Linked DNA regions of Homo sapiens: region 2 is linked to region 1. Evidence: fine-mapped expression QTL. Tissue or cell type: sun-exposed skin. Region 1 holds a variant in brackets; the other region holds the start of a gene. All regions are shown on one strand. Distances are between the middles of the regions.

Region 1 (10,642 bases):
AGAACCTCAACTTAATCACATCTTTTGCTATATAAGATAATGCTCACAGGTGTCAGGGATTCCTGTGGGTATCTTTTTTTTTTTCTTTTATTTATTTTTGAGACAGGGCCTCACTCTGTCACACGGGCTGGAGTCCAGTGGCACGATCGTAGCTTACTGCAGCCTCGAACTTCTGGGTTCAAGTGATCCTCCTGCCTCAACTTCCTGAGTAGCTAGGACAACAGGCACCATCAGCACACCCAGCTAATAACTAAATTTTTTGTAGAGACAGCATCTCACTATGTTGCCCACTATGTTGTTCAGGCTGGTCTTGACCTCATAGGCTCAAGTGATCCTCCCACCTCAGCCTCCCAAAGTGCTGGGATTACAGGTGTGAGCCACCATGCCCAACATAATGATGTGGATATCTTTTGAGGTACCACTTTTGGCTTCCCCCAAACCTCACCACCCCACACTACTATCCTCCTTATGATGGCTTCTAGACTGTGGTGGAAGGGGCAGCAGCCAGGAATCTTTCCTTATTCCATCCTGGAAGTAGAGGGGAAACTGAAGGTAGGAAGGGAAGAGATGGTCTTCTTACTCTGGACTCAGATGCTTTTGCTTATGTTCTTACTGAGTCGTCTCAACTGGATTATCAGATAGGAATTCATATTCCAATATTATGGAATTATGGGTGAAGAAACTGAGGCTCATAGATGAAATAACTTGCCCAAGAAACTCGCCCAGCTAATGGGTTTCAGAGTCAGGATTCAAAGCCAAGTTGGTGTGACTCTGAAATCCATACTGATTCCACTGTCCTGGGAATGACAGTGGGAAACCTACAGTGAAGATTCCAGCTCTGCCTTGCTGCTGTCACTGCCTCTGCCTTCTACTGTAAGTGCACACTGAGCGTTCACAGCATCTTTAAAACAGCACCCTGTCTTTGGCCCTCAGGAACCCCGGATGCATTCATGGCTGTCAGATCTCTTGGGGAAGGCAGTCACTGGGAGACAGGGTTCCAAGTACTGGCTTACCCTTGTCTGCACTGGCTGAAGCCATGCAGAGAGGAGTGTCTATAGGGAGGCCCCTCTCTCCTGGGAGTTAAGATACTTCAGTTGAGGTCCGTATTAGTCTGTTTTCATGCTGCTATGAAGACATACTCAAGACTGGGTAATTTATAAAGAAAAAACGTGGTCAGGTGCGGCAGCTTAAGCCTGTAATCCCAGCACTTTGGGAGGCCAATGCAGGCGGATCACAAGGTCAGGCGTTCGAGACCAGACTGGCCAACATGGTGAAATCCCGTCTCTACTAAAAATACAAAAATTAGCCGGGCGTGGTGGTGCTCACCTGTAATCCCAGCTACTCAAGACCCTGAGGCAGGAGAATCGCTTGAACCAGGGAGGCAGAGGTTGCAATGAGCAAAGTTCGTGCCACTGCACTCCAGCCTGGGCGACAGAGTGAGACTCCATCTCAAAAAAAAAAAAAGAAAGAAAAGAAGTTTAATTGACTCACAGTTCTGCATGGCTAGGGAGGCCTCAGGAAACTTACAATCACGGCAGAAGGCAAAACAGTCACGTCTTATATGGTCTCTGGCGAGAGATGTGAGTGCCCAGCCAAGGGGGAAGCCCCTTATGAAACCATCATATCTCATGAGAACTAACTCACTATCATGCTATCCTGAGAACAGGATGGGGGAAACCACCCTCATGATTCAATTATCTCTACTTAGTCCCTCCCATGAAACGTGGGGATTATGAGTACTACAATTCAAGATGAGATTTGAGTGGGGACACAGCCAAAGCATATCAAGGTCCAAGCTGGACAACCTCTGTGAGTGATCACTGGCAGTCTGTTTCACATTCTGGGCCTCAATTTCCTCATCTGTCAAATGGGAGAACTCAGTTAATCTGTAAGATTATGTTCAAGTCCTAAACTACTGTGATTTAAAATATTATCATGACACAAGCCCTCGTATTCGCACAGCCTTCTCTGGTTAACAAAATGTTTTCACTCATTGCTTACCATTCCACCAACACTGACTTCCATGGGCATGTGCTGAAGCATATGTTGGGCAATGCTGGGCAGTAGTGGCACAGAGAGATGGAGGCCATCGCCCTTGGGGAGCCACTAGTGCAGGTATAGATGCAGATAAAAAGGGAGAAGTAGGTAAGAGCATGTACAGGTTGAACAAAGAGCCCTGGGTGCTGAGGAGGGAGCTGAGGGGGAGGGGTAGTGCTGCACGTGACCCCAATCCCATCAAGTGGAAAAGGCATCTTTGCCTCCATTTTACCGATAAGGAAACTAAGGGTCAGAGAGAGAAATGACTGCTCAGATGCACATAGCCAAGAAGTGACCAGGCCTGCCTTCATTCTGGTATTTGTCTTTTGTCACAGTTTGCTTACCCTATAGGGGATATTGGGATGGAAGACGGGGGAAGGAATCTGAGCCATACCTGAAGATACGTGCAAGGAGTACTGTTTGGTGGGGAGGTGGACACATCAGCATGCTACTCTGGATTTTCAGGAAGCACAGCTTGACTACCTTGTAAATGTCAGGCCTTGGGCTGGGAGTCGAATCAGAGGGTTTCCTGGCCCAGGGGAGCTGCAGTCTGACCACACTAGGGTCAGAGCAGTGACAAACTGCAAGAAGCCCCAGCCTGGGAGTGCCTAGGGTTTTCTATCCAAATGAATTCATGGACGTGCATTCACTCATCCGCTTATCCATCTAATCTTTCTGAACACTGGTCTGAGCACTGAGCACCTGGGGCTGTAGCCCGTCTGCATCTGTGTTTGTGCCTGTTGCTCAGCGCCCTCGACACCTCCAGGGCAGGGGCCTGGTCTCATTTCTCTTTAGCTGACATAGAGGAGACTGGGCCAGACTATTCGGCGCCTCAGAGCCTCTCTCTGCTGCTCTCAGGGCTCCCTTTCCAGGAATGGGGGCTCTAGGCCAGGCTGCCAGGGTAGGGGAGAGGGCGTGGCCATGTCGGCCCCTATCCCCAGGTCGGCTGATAAGCTCCAAAGCAGTCGGGACTGAGGGCCTTGGAGCACAGCCATCAGCCACCCCGTGCCCCACGGTACTAATGAGGCAGCCACCTCCACGCCCAAACGCTGGGATGGGGGCCTGGCCTCTTAGCTCTCTGCTCCCCCTCTCTATCCTGGGTGGTCTTGCCCATTTGTTAGCTTTGGTGGGGGGATGGAGGATTCCTCTGCAAAGGACTGAGCTGTGGGGTCCCTGGGGGAGGGCAGCTGATTCCAGTAGAGAGGACACTTCCCTCCCAAAGTGTCTTTGTTCCCTAAGAGTCTGACCCAATTCTTTTCTTCCATCTGCCCCTGGATTGCCCTGCACAGAGGACAAAGGACCCCGGCGAAAGGGGTGGGGGAAGAGCAAGAAGGATCTCAAAGGGTCATTCTAGGGTTCACTCTCCAGCACCCCTTGACAGGATCTCTTGCGTGTGGGGAGCACAAGCCGACCTGTGCACGTGTGTGAGGTCAGGCGTGGACAGGTCTGTGGGACCACACGTACGGGCACGCGCACGGGGATAGTGAGTTCCATGGAGGCATCCTGTAGTAGGGAACCCGCGACGGTGACGCCACAGATGGGGTGCGGAGGCTCTGGTGGCCCCCAACCTCCATCAGGCCAGCCCTCCTCGCTTCCTTTGATGTGGACAAGACTGCCTTTTTTTTTTTTTTTTTTTTTTTTTTGAGACGGAGTCTTGCTCTGTTGCCCAGGCTGGAGTGCAGTCGCGAGATCTGGGCTCGCTGCAAGCTCCGCCTCCCGGGTTCACAACATTCTCTAGCCTCAGCCTCCTGAGTAGCTGGGACTACAGGCGCCCGCCACCACGCCCGGCTAATTTTTTGTATTTTTTAGTAGAGACAGGGTTTCACCGTGCTGGCCAGGATGGTCTCAATCTCCTGACCTCGTGATCCGCCCGCCTCGGCCTCCCAAAGTGCTGGGATTACGGGCGTGAGCCACCATGCCCGGCCGACAAGACTGCTTTTTAACCTTGTTGGAAAGAGCCACTTGGAGATCAGCCCGTCTAGGGGGACTCTTCTCGCCTCTTAGAGAAGAAATTACGGGGCGCAGAGCCGTGCACCCGAATATCCATGCATCCGAATTCCAACTCCGCTCAGAAGCCTGGGGCAGACTCCCCGCCCCACCCAGCGAACGAGCATGTGGCCGGGACCTGGGTGAGGATTTCCTCGCCAGCCCTCCTTGGCACAGAGCTGTGCATCTCACGACTCCTGCGCGACCCCGGGCCAGGCCCTATTAGTGTCTGGGCTTCGGGCATCTAGTCTGCAAAACCGACTGTGTCGCTTTTCTCGGGCTGCGGCTCCGCTGGGGAGGCTGCGGCAGGGGAAGGCTCGGCAGAGCGCAGGCCGCGGCCTACTGTGCCCAGCAGCCCCCGCTGCCCTCCCCTTTGGGGCCCCGGCCCCCCGCCAGACAGGTATCGGGCAGCCC[C/T]GCCCCGCCGCCGGCACACTGGCAGCTTTGTTACCTGCCCTGGCGCGCCCGGCCTACGAGCGCTACGTGCTGCCGGCCCGCGGCCCCCTCCTTCCCCTCCCCTCCCCGTCCCCGCCCCACATTCCCGGGCCTGGGGCTGCGGCAGCTCCAGGCGGGTCTTTGTGAAGCTGGACTCTGGCACCCCTCTCCTGCGTGGGCTTTTGGGGTCGGGGCCCTAGCGCCCTTCGCCCACTTCATCTCGCCCCTTTCCTTGCTCGGCCACCCTCAAAGAAGCCAGACTTCGCCTTCCCGTCCCCTGCGACCCCCCTGCTTGCAATGGCCGCCTTCCCCACCCTCAGTCGCACCCTAAGGCCCAGTTCAAAGGCTGCTTCTCAGAAGCCTCCGCTGATTCCCAGTTTTAATCACTCTCCCTGGGGCACCCGCTTTGCCCTGATCGCTTGTCTTTGAACCCCTCCAGGTCCTGGGTGGGGCCGGCATACTGCCTGGCCGCCCAGGAAAGTCTTCTGTGGGTGATAGGATGAGTGAAGCTGGAGACCGATAGGGATGGAAACCGAGGTCTCCCAAGTCTAGCGTGGAGTCCCGTCCACCGTCTGGGCTGATGTCTGAGCTTCCCTCTCGGGACTCCGTGTGTGCCCTGAGGCCCTTCATTCGCGTGTCCATGCCCAGCCACACTGCACACCCGGTACCCCTGGCCTCCCAGCCTTTTCCTAGGCTGCCCCTTCTGCCGGATACACTCTCCAGCCACTAGGGCAAAGCCGGCCTCTCCAAGGGCCATCTCTCCTGGAGAAGCCGTGCCTGATCCTTGGGGCTTTGCGGTAATCAGTTCACCTGACTTTTTGTTCCAGAAGCATTACATGTAAGTTACATTTGACCTTCACTGCAGCCCTGCAAACTAGTGATGCGATGTGGCCCGAAAGTGGCTGGCCTGGGATTTGACCTTGGTTCTAGAATGACGTCAGACTTCACAAGACATCAAAGACGGGTTCTTTCTTCCACCGCGTGCTGTGGCCTTTCTCTCCCAGGCCTTCCCCCAAGGACAGATGTTCCTCCCCACCTAGCCCCGTCTCTCCTGCTTTCAAGCTGGAGCAGGGCGGGGTTGGGATTCTTGCTCTAGGGCTAGGCCAGGGGCTGGGTCCCCTGTGGCTTTGGGCCTCCTTGAAGAATTTCGAGGGAGGATGTGCAGGGCGTGGGGAGAGGTGAGGCAGGAATGTGGGGCTCCGGAGGGAAAGCAGTCAAAAGTGGAGAGGGCCTCCGGAGGTGGCTTTCCCAGGGCCCTGGGAAGCAGCGGCCTGTTTGAATGACAAAGGTTCCCTGGAGAGCAAAGGAAAGCTCTAGAGGATGGGAATGTGGGAGGAGGAGGGTCAGAAGGGTGGGGAGGAAGCTGCCCGTGGGCTCCCATCTGCAGCGGCCCTTTCAAGTCCTGCTAAACCCTTAACAATAAGAGGAACTGACCAGTGGACACACGCAAAGGATGATTAACGTAGTTCACTGAAGAAATACAAAAACCTGTGAAAACGCTAGAAATCCCAAAGTACAAATGAAAAAAAAGAGTATGCTTTTTCCTATCTATAGAACTGGTCAAGATAATAGAAGTGAAAACACCAGATGTTGGTGAGGTGTGGGAAAGGGAGTGCTTTTTTCACTGCTAAGGAGGTAAATTGTACCACTTTTCTGCAGGAACATGTCACAGTATGTACAAAAGCCTTTAAAAGAATTAGAATTTGACTTAGCAATTCTGTTTCTGGGGCATATCCTAAAATAAAAGATTATTTATCCCAGTCTTATTTATAACTGGGAAAAACTGGAAATTCTCTAAATGTTCAATGACAGGGAATTGGGTAAGTAGGTTATGCCTCATTCGCAGACTGAAGACTGCAGAAATTAACTGTCATGTTCTTGAAGAATATGAAAGACATGGGAAACACTGAAGATAAGCTGGTAAGTGAAAAGAGGAAGTTGTAAAACAGCATGACTCCAATTTTATACAGTAACTGTATAAATAATATCTACCATGCATGGTGCTGGACTGGGAGCCAATCCCAATCTCCCATTCGAGCATCACAGCAGCCCTGGAAAGAAGATTCTAGTAACTGCATGAAAAAAAAATAGATATATATTGAATACATATATTTTGCATATATAATGTATATATTGAATATATATATTCAAAGAAATATATATGCGAGGAAATGCAACAAAATGTTAACAGCAAGGGGAGAGGGCATGTGTTTTTACTTTTTTCCTTCATTCTTTCTAATCTTTTCCCAATTTTCTTTTTTTTTTTTTTTTGAGACAAGTTTCACTCTCATTGCCCAGTCTGGAGTGCAGTGGCGCCATCGCAGCTCACTGCAGCCTCCGCCTCCCAGGTCCAATTCTCCTGCCTCAGCCTCCCAAGTAGCTGGGATTACAGGTGCCCGCCAACACGCCCAGCTAATTTTGTGTTTTTAGTAGAGGCGGGGTTTCACCATGTTGGTCAGGCTGGTCTCAAACTCCTGATCTCAGGTGATCCACCTGCCTTGGCCTTCCAAAGTGCTGGGACTACAGGGGTGAGCCACCACACCTGGCCCCAATTTTCTTCAATAAAAAATATAATGAAGACATTACCAAATTTGAAATCACAAAAATTATTTGTTCAAAAATATCTTCAGGATCCCCTGTTTTGGGGGTGGGTGGCAGTTTTCCCTTTATTAATTTACTGGGGTTTCCATAACAAAGTACTACAAATTAAGGGGCTTAAACAACAAAAATGTATTATCTCACAGTTCTGGAGGCTGGAAGTCTTACATTAAGGTATTGGCAGGGTTAGTTCCTTCGGAGGGCTGTAAGGGAGAATCCGTTCCATGCCTCTCTGGTATGGAACATGCCAGGTGAATTCTGGTAGCTTCCCATGTTCTTTGTCTTGTTTCTTCTTGTGTCTCTTCCCATCTTTTTTCCTCTATGCTCGTCCATCTCCTTGTCCAAATTTCTGTGCCCCCTAGCCATTTTTTTTGTTTGTTTTTTGTGTATGTTTTTTTTTGAGATGGAGTTTCGCTGTTATTGCCCAGGCTGGAGTGCAGAGGCGCCATCTCGGCTCACTGCAAACTCTGCCTCCTGGGTTCAAGGGATTCTCCTGCCTCAGCCTCCCAAGTAGCTGGGACTACAGGTGCATGCCACCACACCTGGCTAATTTTGTATTTTTAGTAGAGACGGGGTTTCACCATGTTGGTCAGGCTGGTCTCAAACTCCCAACCTCAGGTGATCCGCCAGCCTCGGCCTTCCAAAGTGCAGGGATTACAGGCGTGAGCCACCGCGCTTGGCCCCAAATGTCCCCTTTTTATAAGGATACCAATCATATTGGTTTAGGGTCCACCCTAACGGCTTCATTTTAACTTGATTACCTCTGTAAAGACCCTGTCTCTAAATAAGGTCATATTCTATGGTACAAGGGATTAGGACTTCAACTTATGAATTGAGAGGGGAGGGGCATAAATTTTGCTCCCTCTCAAATGGGTGTGGCAGGGAGGGGAAGTCCTCTGTAGGGATGAGAGTCTATCTTGCACCACAGTGTGACCTTGGGGAGGTTGTTTAGACTTCATAGACTGGGGCTGACATTACTCACCCTCCAGGGTTGTAGTGAATGAGGGTAATTGCTAAAAAGTCCCTTCCCCGGGTTGGTCATCCCTAGGAAGTATCTTATCTGTCCCTTGTTCCTTATCAACATGGACGGCTGGAAGAGCACTGGCCCAAGGACATCACATAGAGCTGGGTTTGAGTTCTAGCCCCGTCTCTAGCTGTGTGGTCCCTGTGAGCCTCTGTTTCCTCATTTGTGAGATGGGAAAAGTATCTATTCCCATTGAGTTGTTGTAGCTAGAAGATAGAGATAAGATGAGGAAAGCCAATGGCAGTAAGAATGCTATAGAAGACCGGAGGCAGTGGGAGGCATCAGCCTGATTAGTCTGAGGTAGCTGGCCTCTCCTTTAGGAAGTTTTCCTTCAGCCCCACAACTTGGATTAGACTCTCCCTGCCATCCTGGGCTCCCACAGTCTCCTCTGCTACCCTCCACACCCCACCCCTCTGTTATGGCACTTGTCACACCCTACCATAGCTGTCTCTCTAGAATTATAGAAGCCTCCCTGAAGGAAGAGACCATCACCTCTGCATGCCCGTTAAAGTAGCAAATATGAATGAAAAAATAGTAAAACCCACTGCTGGCAGTGTTGCAGGTGTTGAGGCTCAGAACGTGATAGCCCAATGTATGGCACTTTGGCATGCTGAGTACTTGAACTCAAAGAGAAGCAAAATATCCAGGCCCTGTGTCTCCCGCTCCTCTTTCTCCCTTGAAGCAAATCAGAGAAAACAGAATTCCTATTCCCCAAAGCACGTCATAGAAACTAGAACCTCTCTCCCCCTAAGCCAGCCATAAAATCTAGAAAGGTTACACTCTCTGTTTTCCCTTGCCCCTTGAAGACCCTCATCCCAGAGCAGTCCTGCCCCATACACTGCAGGAAGGAATGCTTCGCAAGGAGACCAAAAAGAATCTGGATAGGCTTTGCTGGATCTCCCTGCTCAGTCTATTACCATGAGGTCATGCCCCTTTGTCCAATCACATCTCCACATGGCTGTTCATTCCTCATTGAACCTAAACACAAAACACAGTTTTCTCTAGGCTTTTGGGTCTTTATTTCTGAAGGCTCCTATGTCATGTAAAACTTTGATTCAATAAATTTGTTGTGCTTTTTTCTTGTTTATCTGTCTTTTATTATAAGAATAACCTTGCTTGGTATGGTGGCTCACGCCTCTAATCCCAGCACTTTGGGAGGCTGAGGCGGGTGAATCACCTGAGGTCAGGGGTTCAAGACTAGCCTGACCAACATGGAGAAACCCTGTCTCTACTAAAAATACAAAATTAGCCAGGTGTGGTGGTGCATGCCTGTAATCCCAGCTACTTGGGAGGCTGAGGCAGGAGAATCGCTTGAGCCTGGGGGACGGAGTTTGCGGTGAGCCGAGATCGTACCATTGCACTCCAGCCTGGGTGACAGAGTGAGACTCCGTCTCAAAAAAAAAAAAAAAAAAGAATAACCTTATGATGGATGAGGAAAGGTATCATACCTTTCCTGTATACATAGTGGTGATGTGAATAAACACAATCTTTCTGGAGAACTATTTAGCAGTTCTAATAAAAACCACACACTTAAGTACAACCCCTGACCAAGAGAAACCAGTTTGGGGAGTATATTCCAAGTATCTAATGCAAAGGTGAAAAAAAAAAAAAACTTGCTGTGTAAAGATATTTTGAGCTGACTATGTGTCATGAAGAAGAGTGGAAAAATAATGGTGCAATGAATTTGTAAACTGCAAATGATGGCAGCTTGGTTCACACTGTGACAATTCAGCACAGTCCAGGAAACATTAACTGAGTACAGAGCATGTGTGAGGTCCTGGATTCCACTCTGGGAACCCAGACATGTCCCTGCACCAACTAGTGGGTAGACAGGCAGGTAGACTATCACCATACAGTGTGAGCAGATGAGAGAAGTGGGGGCGAGCACACGTGGAGAAGTTAACTCATGGGAAGGAGGGTCAGGAGAGCTTCTTGCAGGGGGAGATACCTGAGCTGGCTTCAAGTGGACACTGGTGGGAAGGAGAATAAACAACCTAGATGAAGGTGGGGGGCATTTGTGAAATGGCAAATCATAGGTGTGGCTGGAGGGTGGAATACATGCGGTCATGATAAGGCTGGAGAATATGGCCAGAGGCAGATCATCAAGGGCCTTGAATGCCAGTTCGTGCTTTACCCAGCAGAAGTGGAGAAGCCAACAGACATCTTTAAAGAGGTGAGCAAGAGGATCATCTTTGTGATTTAGGAAGATCATGGGGTAGCCATTTGGAGGATGGACTGGAAAGGCCAGCAGGCAGGGGGAGCCTGTTGTAGGGTCCAGGTAAGCCATGGTGACAAAGCCTGGGGATGGAGAGAGGGAGGCAAGGTCATGAGATATTTATGAGCCAAAAGAGACAGATAACTCTTGGTGACTGACAGGATGCTGGGGGAGAGGCAGAGGCAGAATTGTGGCAGGTAGTGCCAGCAACTGACAGGGAACATGAGAGGAGGAGCCCGTTTTGGGGGAAAAGGGATGAGTCCAGTTTGGTATCTGTTGGGTTTGAAGTACCCATGGGACGCCCAGATGGACAGGGGAGTGGGCAGCTGGGTATATGAATCTGGAGCTCA
Region 2 (10,642 bases), 50 kb before region 1:
GAAGCCTCAGGGAGGCAAGTCAGTGTGGTCACAAAGAGAGGAGATGCTGTCTTCTTTCTGCCCAGGTTCAAGGCCTGGGAGCCCTGCTCAGTTACTGCAAAACCCTAATGTTTATGCATCAGCTACTGCCAGGCCTGGTGGCTGGAAGACAGAGCCTCAGGCTCCAGTCCACCCCTCCCGTGGAGAGAGGTAACAATTGGAGGCTTGTTAGGGTAGCCAGGGCTGGGCCTGCAGGCCTGGACACAGCCTCTCTGAGCCCATGAATCTGGTCAGGAGGCCTCCCAGCCTCCGCCATCATGGGGACGTCGGTTACCAGACTGCAGACTGAGTGAGCGGCTTTATCACCTTTATGCCCAGGAGTGAGGTGGGGGAAGGGGTGAGGTTGCAGGCCCCAAGCCAACACTGCACACTTTCCTCTTTGTTCCAGGCCTCCCCAGCTTTGCCAGTCTTGGGGAAGCAGGGAGCTGGATGGCTGTACCCTTGGTACTTGAGCAGAGCTCTGGGCCGACACCCCGTGACCAGGAGGCACTGGGCAAAGCTGAGCTCCTTGAAGTCACAAGCTGATTACGGGGGATTTGAGGCTGGCCCAGCTCCGGGGCAAATAGGGTCGAATCCCTGGATGGCTCGGTACTAGACAAGGATCATCTTGGGGCTGTTTACATCATTTGTACACCCAGACTGGCCTTACAAAGGGTCTTTCCACTTAAAATAGCCACTTCTCTAATTTAGGGCACGGGGCCAGTCTCACCACATCCACTGGGGGTAGCCAAGTCTCTATTTACTGAGAAGGAAACCAAGGCTCCAAGGAAAGCCACTTCTTCAAGGTCAGAGTTTAGTGGGAACATCTAGTGTTTTGTTTCCATTCACAGTAGAGTTTCAGTTGTCAAGTTACGTCTAATCCAACTTTCAGGCTCCTATGGCATGGCAAGTCCTGTGTCTGGGGATTCCTGCTCATTTGGGGTGGGTGGAGGATGGCACAGACAGGCATGTGGAGAAGAAAGCATCTTTAAAAAAAAAACACAGCTAGGCCAGGCGCGGTGGCTCACACCTGTAATCCCAGCACTTTGGGAGGCCGAGGTGGGCGGATCACCTGAGGTCTGGAGTTCGAGACCAGCTTGACCAACATGAAGAAACCCCATCTCTACTAAAAAAAAATACAAAAAAATTAGCCGGGCATGGTGGCACATGCCTGTAATCCCAGCTACTCGGGAGGCTGAGGCAGGAGAACCACTAGAACCTGGGAGGCGAAGGTTGTGGTGAGCTGAGATTGTGTCATGGCACTCCAGCCTGGGCAACAAGAGCGAAACTCCGTCTCAAAAATCAAAACAAAACACAGCTCCATAGAACGCCTCAAATCTTTTGTGATAGCCTTATCTCGGACAAATCTCTTCCCTTCTCTGGACTCAATTTCCCCATTTGTCAAATGGAGGGCTGGGCCATGGCTGGAAGGCCCCTCCTGCTCTGGGTTCCTTCCACCCTCTAATGTCATCCTGGAAAGGCTGGCAGCATGTCTTGGGGTGGGAGGCTCAGTGTGTGATCTTGGCAAAGTCATTTTTTATTGGACCATGAGGTCACTGTAACTTGTATCACAGGGCAGTTGTGAGGACCCTTGGAGTTAATGGACATGAATGTCCCTTTCAAACTATCCCAAGGGTGACCCAAATTCAGAAAGGTAGGCAGGAAGCCTAAGGCAAAAAAGCAAAGCAAAGAAGCCCAAAGCAGCGCAGGGCACTCACATGAGCTGACCCTCCCTGGCCTGGCACTCTCACCCATGTGCCATGCCTACTCACTTCCCAACAAGCCCCTACTAGGAAGAATGGGTTAGTGGGAGCTTTAATGATTTACCTGACTTAATACCCATGGGCCAGCATCCTGACTCCCCAAAAGCTCATACTGCCAGAATGCCAGCTTTTGGATAAAGGCCAAGGCCCAGGTACAAGTCACCCACAGCCCAGGTAAGGCATCATGGGAGTCCAAGGAAGCAAGAAATATTTATGGAGCATCTATGGGGACAGAGACGTACATTCTTTTCTGAATTCCTAGACACTGTAATGATGAAAACTGGGCAACTAAGCTAAGCTGGGATTCAAAACCACATATGCAAACATCTATGTTTGGCCGGGTGCGGTAGCTCACGCCTGTAATCCCAACACTTTGGGAGGCTGAAGTGGGCGGATCACCTGAGCTCAAGAGTTCGAGACCAGCCTGGGCAACATGGCGAAACCCTGTCTCTACCAAAAATACAAAAATTTAGCTGGGCACGGTGACGCATGTCTGTGGTTCCAGCTACTCAAGAGGCTGAGGTGACAGAATCGCTTGAGCCTGGGAGGTAGAGGTTGCAGTAAGCCAAGATACTTGCCTGGGTGACAGAGTGAGACCTCGTCTCAAAAAAAGACAAAAAACAAAAAACTATGCTGTCTGCACCACAAAGGGGCTGAGAAAGCCTGCAGATTTCTGATTTTTCCTTTTCTGGAAGGTAGAGACTGGCCAGAAAAGTGATGAGTGATGGGCATAGGCAAGGCTAGTTACAAGTTCTTCACGAAGGGTGGGGTGAGACATCTGGGGCAGGGCTCACCCTTGCGTGCTGCCCAGGAGAGATCGTGGGCGAACCCCTGGCTTGTAGGCAAGGTGATTCCATCTGTCCCCTACTTCCTATTCAGCTAAGCTCATTACTGTGAGTTACAGAGGAGCACAATGGAACACGGGGAAGTTAGTTAAGTCAGTTCCCATTTCCTAGGAGACAAAGAGGAACATAGCAGAACCAAGGCTTTGGAGCCAGACACACCTGGTTTTCAGATCTTGTGTGAAAGGCAAGCGATATGACCTCCCCAGGCCTCTAACATCATGCACAAAAAGGCTGTGCTTGCAGGTCAAATCAGCAGTCTCCAAAGGGAAGGGCTTTATTCCAGAATGTATATGGAATGATCTACACAAGATTTGGAGGGGAAAATGACTATAACTGCTGTCTTGTATCTATCTGTCTTTTGAAATTTCTATTTTATGAAGGCATATCATCTGTTAGTATCAAACTGCATGTGCATGAATTTAAAAATACAGCCGGGCGTGGTGGCTCACGCCTGTAATCCCAGGCCTGTAATCCCAGCACTTTGGGAGGCCGAGGCGGGCAGATCATCTGAGGTCGGGAGTTCGAGACCAGCCTGACCAACATGGAGAAACCCCGTCTCTACTAAAACTACAAAAAAAAAAAAAAAAAAAAAAAAAACATTAGCTGGGTGTGGTGGCACATGCCTGTAATTCCAGCTACTCGGGAGGCTGAGGCAGAAGAAACGCTTGAACCCGGGAGGCAGAGGTTGCAGGGAGTTGAGATCGCGCCATTGCACTCCAGCCTGGGCAACAAAAGCGAAACTCCGTCTCAAAAAATAAATAAATAAAAATAAAAAAATAAAAATACAGATACACCACTGTGAAAGAGGTGTTCCAACATTAATTACTGACGAGGTAGACAGTGGAAAACTTGGAGAACACTCCATGAAGAGCACCCACCTGCTACACTATTTAGAACCAGCTGGCACAAGGGGCCACCTTTGAAGATAGGCAAACTCTCTCCCTTCTGCCCAAAATTCAAGAAATGTTGTGGTGAAGAGAGACAGTGGAGACAGAAATGAAATTAAATCTGATGGGCCTGGGTTCAAATCCAGTTCAACCACTTACTAGCTGTGTGACTTTGGCAAACTTATTTCCCTTCTCTGAGCTCCAGGCTAGTGAGTAACCAGCAGGGCTATAAGGTCCGTGACGCTTAAAGTAGTTTGGCTAAGAACCTGCTGATTTTCTCCTCCACTTTTCTGTCTCCACGTAGTATTCCCTTATCCACTCAACAAATAAATACCCATGTCTGGCATAGTATGCTGAATAGATAGTTCCTTCCCTAGAGGAAGTGACAAAAGTGATCTCTTTCAGATGGAAAAACTGAGGCCCAGAAGTTAAGTGGCCTGCAAGAGCCCTGAGATATTTGGACTTCCTTGCCACTAGCTAGAAGAGCTTCTCACTGAACTTTTGTTTAGTTATATCCCACCCTTACGGCTCACCTAAGATCCTGGGAGCCTTCCCCGGGAACTTCCCCGGGGTCTCACCTCAAGCGAGGGCCCAGGAAGGGTGAACCAAGTCGTCTGGATTTATGGATTCAACAGGTGTGGGGCGGAAGGCCTTTTCCTGCCGAGGGTGCGGCCCAGCGCCACCCCGCTCAGTCTCAGCGGGACACCTCCACAGCCAGTAGGAAGGGCAGTTCAAAATTCAGTGCTACCCCCGCGTCCCAGCTAAGAAAACAAGGGCCATCCAGGTGCCCTCCCAGCTGACGAGATGGAAAAATCAAAGTATAATAGATAAAGAGGGACCGTTTCAAAAGAAAAAGGGGACTTGAAAATATTGTAGACTAGGGGGAGGAAAGGAGGTGGAAAGAAACAATGCCCTACACACAGGAGGGGCTCCACAAACAATTTGTTGAAAAGAAATCGCTCTGCGGACGCTACAAAGATGCCCTGCAGGACAAGCCCACTTACACAGAAAAAAAGAAATCCTATCTAGGGAGTTGTTGGTCCCCAGAGTCCCCATCCCTCATTCCCCAACCCCGTGGCGTGCGCGCTTCCCGCTAGACTTCAGCCTGGGGCTCTTTCCTGGCCCCCAGATCCCCCGCCCCTCCGGTTGCGCTCCCCGCCTGGCCCCGAGGGTAAACCTGCCTCCGCGGAACACATCTCCGCGAGACTGGGCCAAAGCTTTGGGGCCTGCACTCCTCGCAAAGGAGAGCCTCCGAGACCGGAGGTTCATCTCAACCCCCGCGTTCGAGCCCGGGCCTGGAGAAAAGTGCCCTCCCCTCGGCCTCGGCCTCGTCACCGCGGGGGACTGGCGGGAGGAGTAGGGGAGGCCGGTGGGACACCTCGCACCAGGCCGCCCACCTACAGGGGCGTCCGGGCTAGGGGAGCAGACGGAGAGCGGGGGCGGCTCCTGACTCCTCCGCGCGCCGGGGCCGGGGCCGGGCCGGGGGCTCGGCCCGCTCAGCCAATGGGCGCCGCGCTCGGGCCCCCTCCCCCGCACCGGGAGGGGCCGAGGCTGGGCTGCTGCTGCCGAGGTCGTGTGCGACGTGCCGCTCCCGGGCCCTGTGTCCCCAGCCCCAGCAGGGCCGCGTGGACGGCGCGGCGCCCCCGGAAGGAGGCCATGTGCTCAGTGCCGGCGCCAACTACGCACGCGGCGCCCTCCGGCCCGCTAGATCCGAAGCCCATCCCCACTGCGGCCAGCGGCCCGGCGGGGCGCTGCGCTCGGGACCCGCACCGAGCCAGGCTCGGAGAGGCGCGCGGCCCGCCCCGGGCGCACAGCGCAGCGGGGCGGCGGGGGAGGCCCTGGCCGGCGTAAGGCGGGCAGGAGTCTGCGCCTTTGTTCCTGGCGGGAGGGCCCGCGGGCGCGCGACTCACCTTGCTGCTGGGCTCCATGGCAGCGCTGCGCTGGTGGCTCTGGCTGCGCCGGGTACGCGGGTGGCGACGGGCGTGCGAGCGGCGCTCTCCCGCTCAGGCTCGTGCTCCGGTCCGGGGACTCCCACTGCGACTCTGACTCCGACCCCCGTCGTTTGGTCTCCTGCTCCCTGGCGTGCTCACTCGGGGACCCGCGACTAGCGACCGGCACGCTCGCTGTTGCTACCTCTTGCCTCTTGCCAGAGAGCGCGCGGACCGTAGCGTTTATAGGACCCCGGCCATTGGCTGGCGACGCCGGTGTGTCAGGGGTGTGTGGGCAGGACCTCGGGGCGGGGCCTGGGGCCCAGCCTGTCCTGGGCGGCGCTCTGCGGGGAGGGGGTGAGGGGAGTGGCCGGGGCCGGGGCCCCCCCTAACCACTGCCTCGCTCAGGCTGCCGATCGGCTCGTTCTCTCTGCGTTGGGACCGCGGAGGGCATTCGCTGTGTGACTCAGGGCAAGTGTGCGCACCTCTCTGAGCCTCCGCGGCCTTCTCTAGCAAAATGGTGGAGCCGGTACCCGGCTGTAAGGCAAGCTGGGATGCGCGGAGTAGCGGGTGGAAAGCTGGACTGGAGTTCTCACTCGGCCGCTGGGTGACTTCGGTGCACTAGGGATAGTAACAGTACCACCTCGTAGGGTTGTAGAAAGACCAAGTGAGTTAATATTTGTAAAGTGTTTAGAACAGCGTCTACTGCATGGAAAGTAGTATTTATTTGTTAGAGAGACTCCAGGAGGTCTTGCCCAGGGATTGACTTCTCCCTTCCCTGTCTCCACCCCCCACATTCCCGTTTGTGAGCCAAGCCTTGCTTTTGCACCGGCCGGGCTCTCTTGCCTGGAAATGCATACCCATCTCAAACCTGGGCTTTAAAATCACCTCCTCTGGGACGCCTTCCTCTACTTCTCACAGTTCAGGTGAGTCTATGGTGACCTGTAAGTGTGGAAAATATGAAAGGCAGGCTAACTGACTGACATGATAGGACATTAAGGACATGATAGACCTCGGGTTTGAACCAGCTCAACTGTATACTGGCCCGGCCGCGATCCTGGGCGAGTTCCTGGCCAGTGAGGCTGTTTTCGTTTTTTTCTTTAATTTTTTTTTTTCTCAGACAGAGTCTCGCTCTGTCGCCCAGGCTGGAGTGCAGCGGCACGATCTCGGCTCACTGTAACCTCCGCCTCCCGGATTCAAGCAGTTCTCTGCCTCAGCCTCCCGAGTAGCTGGGATTACAGGCGCCCGCTATCACCCCTGGCTAATTATTTTTATTTTTAGTAGAGACGGGGTTTCACCATTTTGGCCAGGCTGGTCTTGAACTCTTGACCTCGTGATCCACCCACCTCGCCTCCCAAAGTACTGGGATTACAGGCGTGAGCCACTGAGCCCGGCCGAGGCTGTCTTCTTATGAGTAAATGGAATTCCCACACCAATCTCATTGCTATCAGGAGAGGTGCAATTTCCAGATAAGCTCATGAAGTGTTTAGCATGGAAGTTCTCATTTACTGGTTGGTGGTATTGTTGGTTTATTTATTTAGTCTGTTAGTAAATAAATAAATGCTGGTCTCAAACTCCTGGGCTCAAGTGATCCTCCCACCTTAGCCTCCGTAGTAGCTGGGAGTGCAGGCATGTGCCACTGCACTGGTAGTGGTATTGCTATCATCTGACTTCACCTTATTTCCTCTAGACCAGTGCCTTACTTGAGACACAGTGAAGGGAAGGACCCCCAGTCCAAAGGTCTGATCAAAGTCTTGAGGGTCCCTTTCCCGATGGAGGGAGTCATGGTGGGCTTACTGTCTGTCGGAAACCGGGAGGCTGAGCCGACCAGATGACCCCTGGAGTTCTCTGGCAATGTGTCCAGTTCTGGCTGAGGGGCACCTTGGTTGAGTATGGAGCCCTGAAACAGAAGGCAGGTGCATTCTGGGCACCCCCCTGCCCAAGGCTTCAATTCCTGTGGTCTCTCTATGCTCAGCCTGGAAAGCTTGGGCCACCTCTCTCCTCACCCCTGGACAGACCAAGTCCTGCTGACTCCGCTGTCTACACCACCTCATCCTCCTTCCCTCCCCTGCTGTCTGCAGGGCCTCCATCTCCTCTGGTCTTTTGTCCTCCAGTCCTGCACCCTGCCACTCTCCTGCTCATCTGTCTGAAATTGTCATGGAGGGAGTAAGGGCCAAGCCTGGCCATCACGGTCCTTCTTCATGGCACCAGTTTACACGCTCAGCCTCGCCCCTCACACCAGCAACTCACATCCACACATTTGCTCAGCTTGTCTCCTCTGCCTGGGAAGCCCTCCCCGACCTCACCATGCCAAAAAGCACCATGGGTCCTTCCTCCTCCGGGAAGTGTCCCTGGTTCTCCCAAGTGGAAATCTTTCTCTCCTTTACCATTTGGTGTTTTGTAGGTTGCCACTTGTCCTCTGTCTGCCTTCCCTCAGCCTGTGAGCACCTTGAGGACAGGTTCTGCAGCTGAGGCACGTGGGTGAATGACTGAAGGAGGGAAGGAATGCACGAATGAGTGAGCAGCTAATCTACCTGTGTTGAATGTTCCTTCCCCTCCAGTCCGTCCTGCTGATACTTCCAGTCTTTCCTTAAGTACCTTTTGGGTTTTGCTACTTCCCTCCTCAAAGTCTCTCCACAGCTCCTTGTTTCTTAGCACATCCAGTCTATGCCTTTTCCCAGTTGCGGGTCTGCCTTACTCAGCCCATGGGTCACACTCACCAAACAGCCACCTTGTCCTTCTCTGGGCCAGCCCCATGCTGGCCACTTTCCCAGGGACAGAGACATGTGACCCCATTGTTAGCCTCATGGAGGCCCCAAGCTGGAGGAGGAGCAAGAGGGGAAATGAGCAGCAACAATACCAAGTCAAGCGTAGAGGGTTAAGAATCTGTACAGGTGCAGAACTTGTACCACAGGGGAAGGAGAGTGAGTAGAGAGAGCATCTGGGAAGGGGGAGGTCATGCTAAGCAGGGTTTGGAAGACTGAATAGGAGTTCACCAGATGGATTGAGGGAAGGCCATTCTCAGCAGAGAGAAGAGCATGTGCAAAGGCAGCAGACTGCCAGAATGATTACCTAGGGAACGTGAGAATCTCTGGGCCACTCTTAGAGATTCATGATGGAGCCCCAGATCCGGACTCTTTGAGTCCCAGCTCTGCTATTTACTTGCAAACATTCATGGGCAAACAATGCCTTCTCTTCTCTGAGCCTGAAGACCCACATCTGTAAAATAGATATAACAAACCCTTCCTGGGTAGGCCTGAGGGAAAGTGGATGTTTATAAAGGCTTAGCTATGTAAACTGTACTCATTCTTGACGTGAGAAGTTCAGTCAAATCCCCATCCCATGGTAGGGCGGTGCTTGAGGAAAAAGCACAGTGGCCAAAAAAAAGCTTTTCCTTCACCCACCCCACCCCACCTGCCCACACACAGACCCCCATTACCTTCTCTGTGTTCCTCTCTGTGAATGTTTTATGACCCCTGGAGGCTACTGGTCAGAAGCAAATTCATCAGAAGCTATTGACGCTGCATCACAGACTAGATTCTCAGGTGGACTGGTTTGTTATTTGGGTGGCTGATTCCTTGGAAGCAGAATTTAACTCCAACTAGGGAATGAGCCCTAGAGAAGGCCCCAGGAAATAGCACATGAGCAGAGAAGGTTTGGGTGCAAGGGGAAAGGGGAGCAGGAGGGGCACCTAAGTAGCCCCTGTGGCTGGGGCATGGGGGCTTAGGGAGGAGAAGAGACTGAAGAAGTGGAATCACAGAGGCTCCCAAATGCCAGGTATAGGAGTTAGGGCTTTATGCAGTGGGTAGTGGCGAGCCATGGAGAGTTATTGAGCAGGGAAAGGACCTGAGGAAACCTCAGTGTCCCCACAAGCCTACTCTACCTGAGGCACTAAAGGGGGTGTGAGGAGGCTGTGGAACCCCAGCATTCAGCTTGAACGACCTAGTGCCCCTTCCCTAGTCTGCGCCCACACTGACAGCTTTATTCCCTGGAGGCTGCCTTTAGTCCTGGACGGAACTCGGCCTCTTCTGGGTCCGATTCTAAGCAGTTCCAGCCCCAGCTAGTCTGGAGGAAAAGAGCTCTCTGGGACTGGCTAGCAGGGAGGTGTCAGGTGCCAGGCGGATGCTGGAGCCTAGTGTGTGCCTCAGAGCACGCAAGTGGGTGGGGGAGGGGTGGTGGTGGTGATGGTGGTGGTGGCAGGGCCGTGCAGGGCGGGTCCTAGCAGCTCCAGAGTTAGGAGTGAGTAAGGCGGGCTGGGAAAAGACTCTGTTGCCTTTAAAGGCAAGCGTCCCTGGCAGCCAGGAGGAAAGGTTTTGCTGAGTCAGCTACAATTGGTACAAGAGGGGATAGCAGGGGCTGGGACGGAAGCCCCCCTAATCCAAAGGGTGTTTTGCAATTCAAATCCTCCTGGATTGCAGGTAAACACAGTGATGGATTCCAGGAAGGTCTGATGGGCCAGGCAGGACAGTTTTGTGTGTTTAATGTTTTCATTCTGATTTGCACATCTGCTTGAACCACCTGCTTTCAGAAAGCTTTTCGGCATCCCTTCTTTATCTTCTGTATGCCCTCCGACCCTCTGCAAATGCACTTATCAGGGCTACCACCTGCTCGCTGATGCTGGGGGAATTGAAGGCACATACTCCCCTCCCTTCTCTCCTGACTACCAGGCTTTTCTGTCCAGCTGCCTCCAGGATGTCCCTCTGGATGTCCCACAGGTCCCTCACACTCACCATGCTCAAACCTGAACTCATTATCTTTGCCCATCCCTTCCTGTCCCCACCCTAGAAATGGCTCCTCTAGCCACCAAATTGCCCTAGCCAGAGATCTGGTATCTTCCCTGACCCCTCTCTGTCTCCCTCATTCCCCATATCCAGTCAATCCCGTGGACTTTGCCTGCCCATCCCGTGGACTCTGCCTGCCCTCTCCATGCAGACAGTCCCTCCTCCAGCATAGGCTAGGACCACTATTCATTCATCCTCCTCCCTGCCACCACACTGGTCTCTTTAAAATGCACAGCTGACCACATCACTGCTTTGTTCAAACATCTTTCCATGGCACGCAATAATGTGGCTGAATCTCACAGACATATTGAGTGATAGCAGCTGTGCGAAAGAGTGTGATGTCATGTGTATAAAGTTTAAAAACAGGCAAAACTTATCTCCGGGGTAACAGTAGTTACCCTTGGAAGGGAGGGTCGCGAC

Alleles and levels. Alleles are on the strand shown, and positions count from the first base shown. SD is a standard deviation of normalised expression in the study named.
In carriers of allele T in region 1, the expression in sun-exposed skin of the gene that starts at base 5,658 in region 2 tends to be lower than with C alone (small effect, 0.20 SD a copy in GTEx).

Evidence for each region. PIP is the estimated chance that this variant, and not a neighbour inherited with it, causes the effect.
Region 2: it holds the start of SLC2A1, and the variant in region 1 is fine-mapped to the expression of SLC2A1 in sun-exposed skin (GTEx, PIP above 0.99). The same link has a PIP of 0.9 or more in unexposed skin.

The regions. Positions count from the first base shown.
Region 1 is chr1:43,003,145-43,013,786 of GRCh38, forward strand. No RefSeq gene overlaps it. Among named protein-coding and RNA genes, the nearest start is that of SLC2A1-DT, 49 kb to the left of the region's middle. RefSeq lists enhancers at 4,507-5,214, 5,215-5,923, 5,924-6,631 and a silencer at 5,444-5,738. The variant C/T (reference allele first, on the strand shown) is at 4,438.
Region 2 is chr1:42,953,211-42,963,852 of GRCh38, forward strand. SLC2A1 (solute carrier family 2 member 1) reads right to left here and starts at 5,658. Exons shown (of 10, transcript NM_006516.4): 1 at 5,424-5,658. The coding sequence starts at 5,441. SLC2A1-DT (SLC2A1 divergent transcript) reads left to right here and starts at 5,839. Exons shown (of 4, transcript NR_033967.1): 1 at 5,839-6,367. RefSeq lists enhancers at 1-860, 2,212-2,501 and silencers at 4,779-5,418, 5,549-5,958, 5,831-6,014, 9,468-9,762.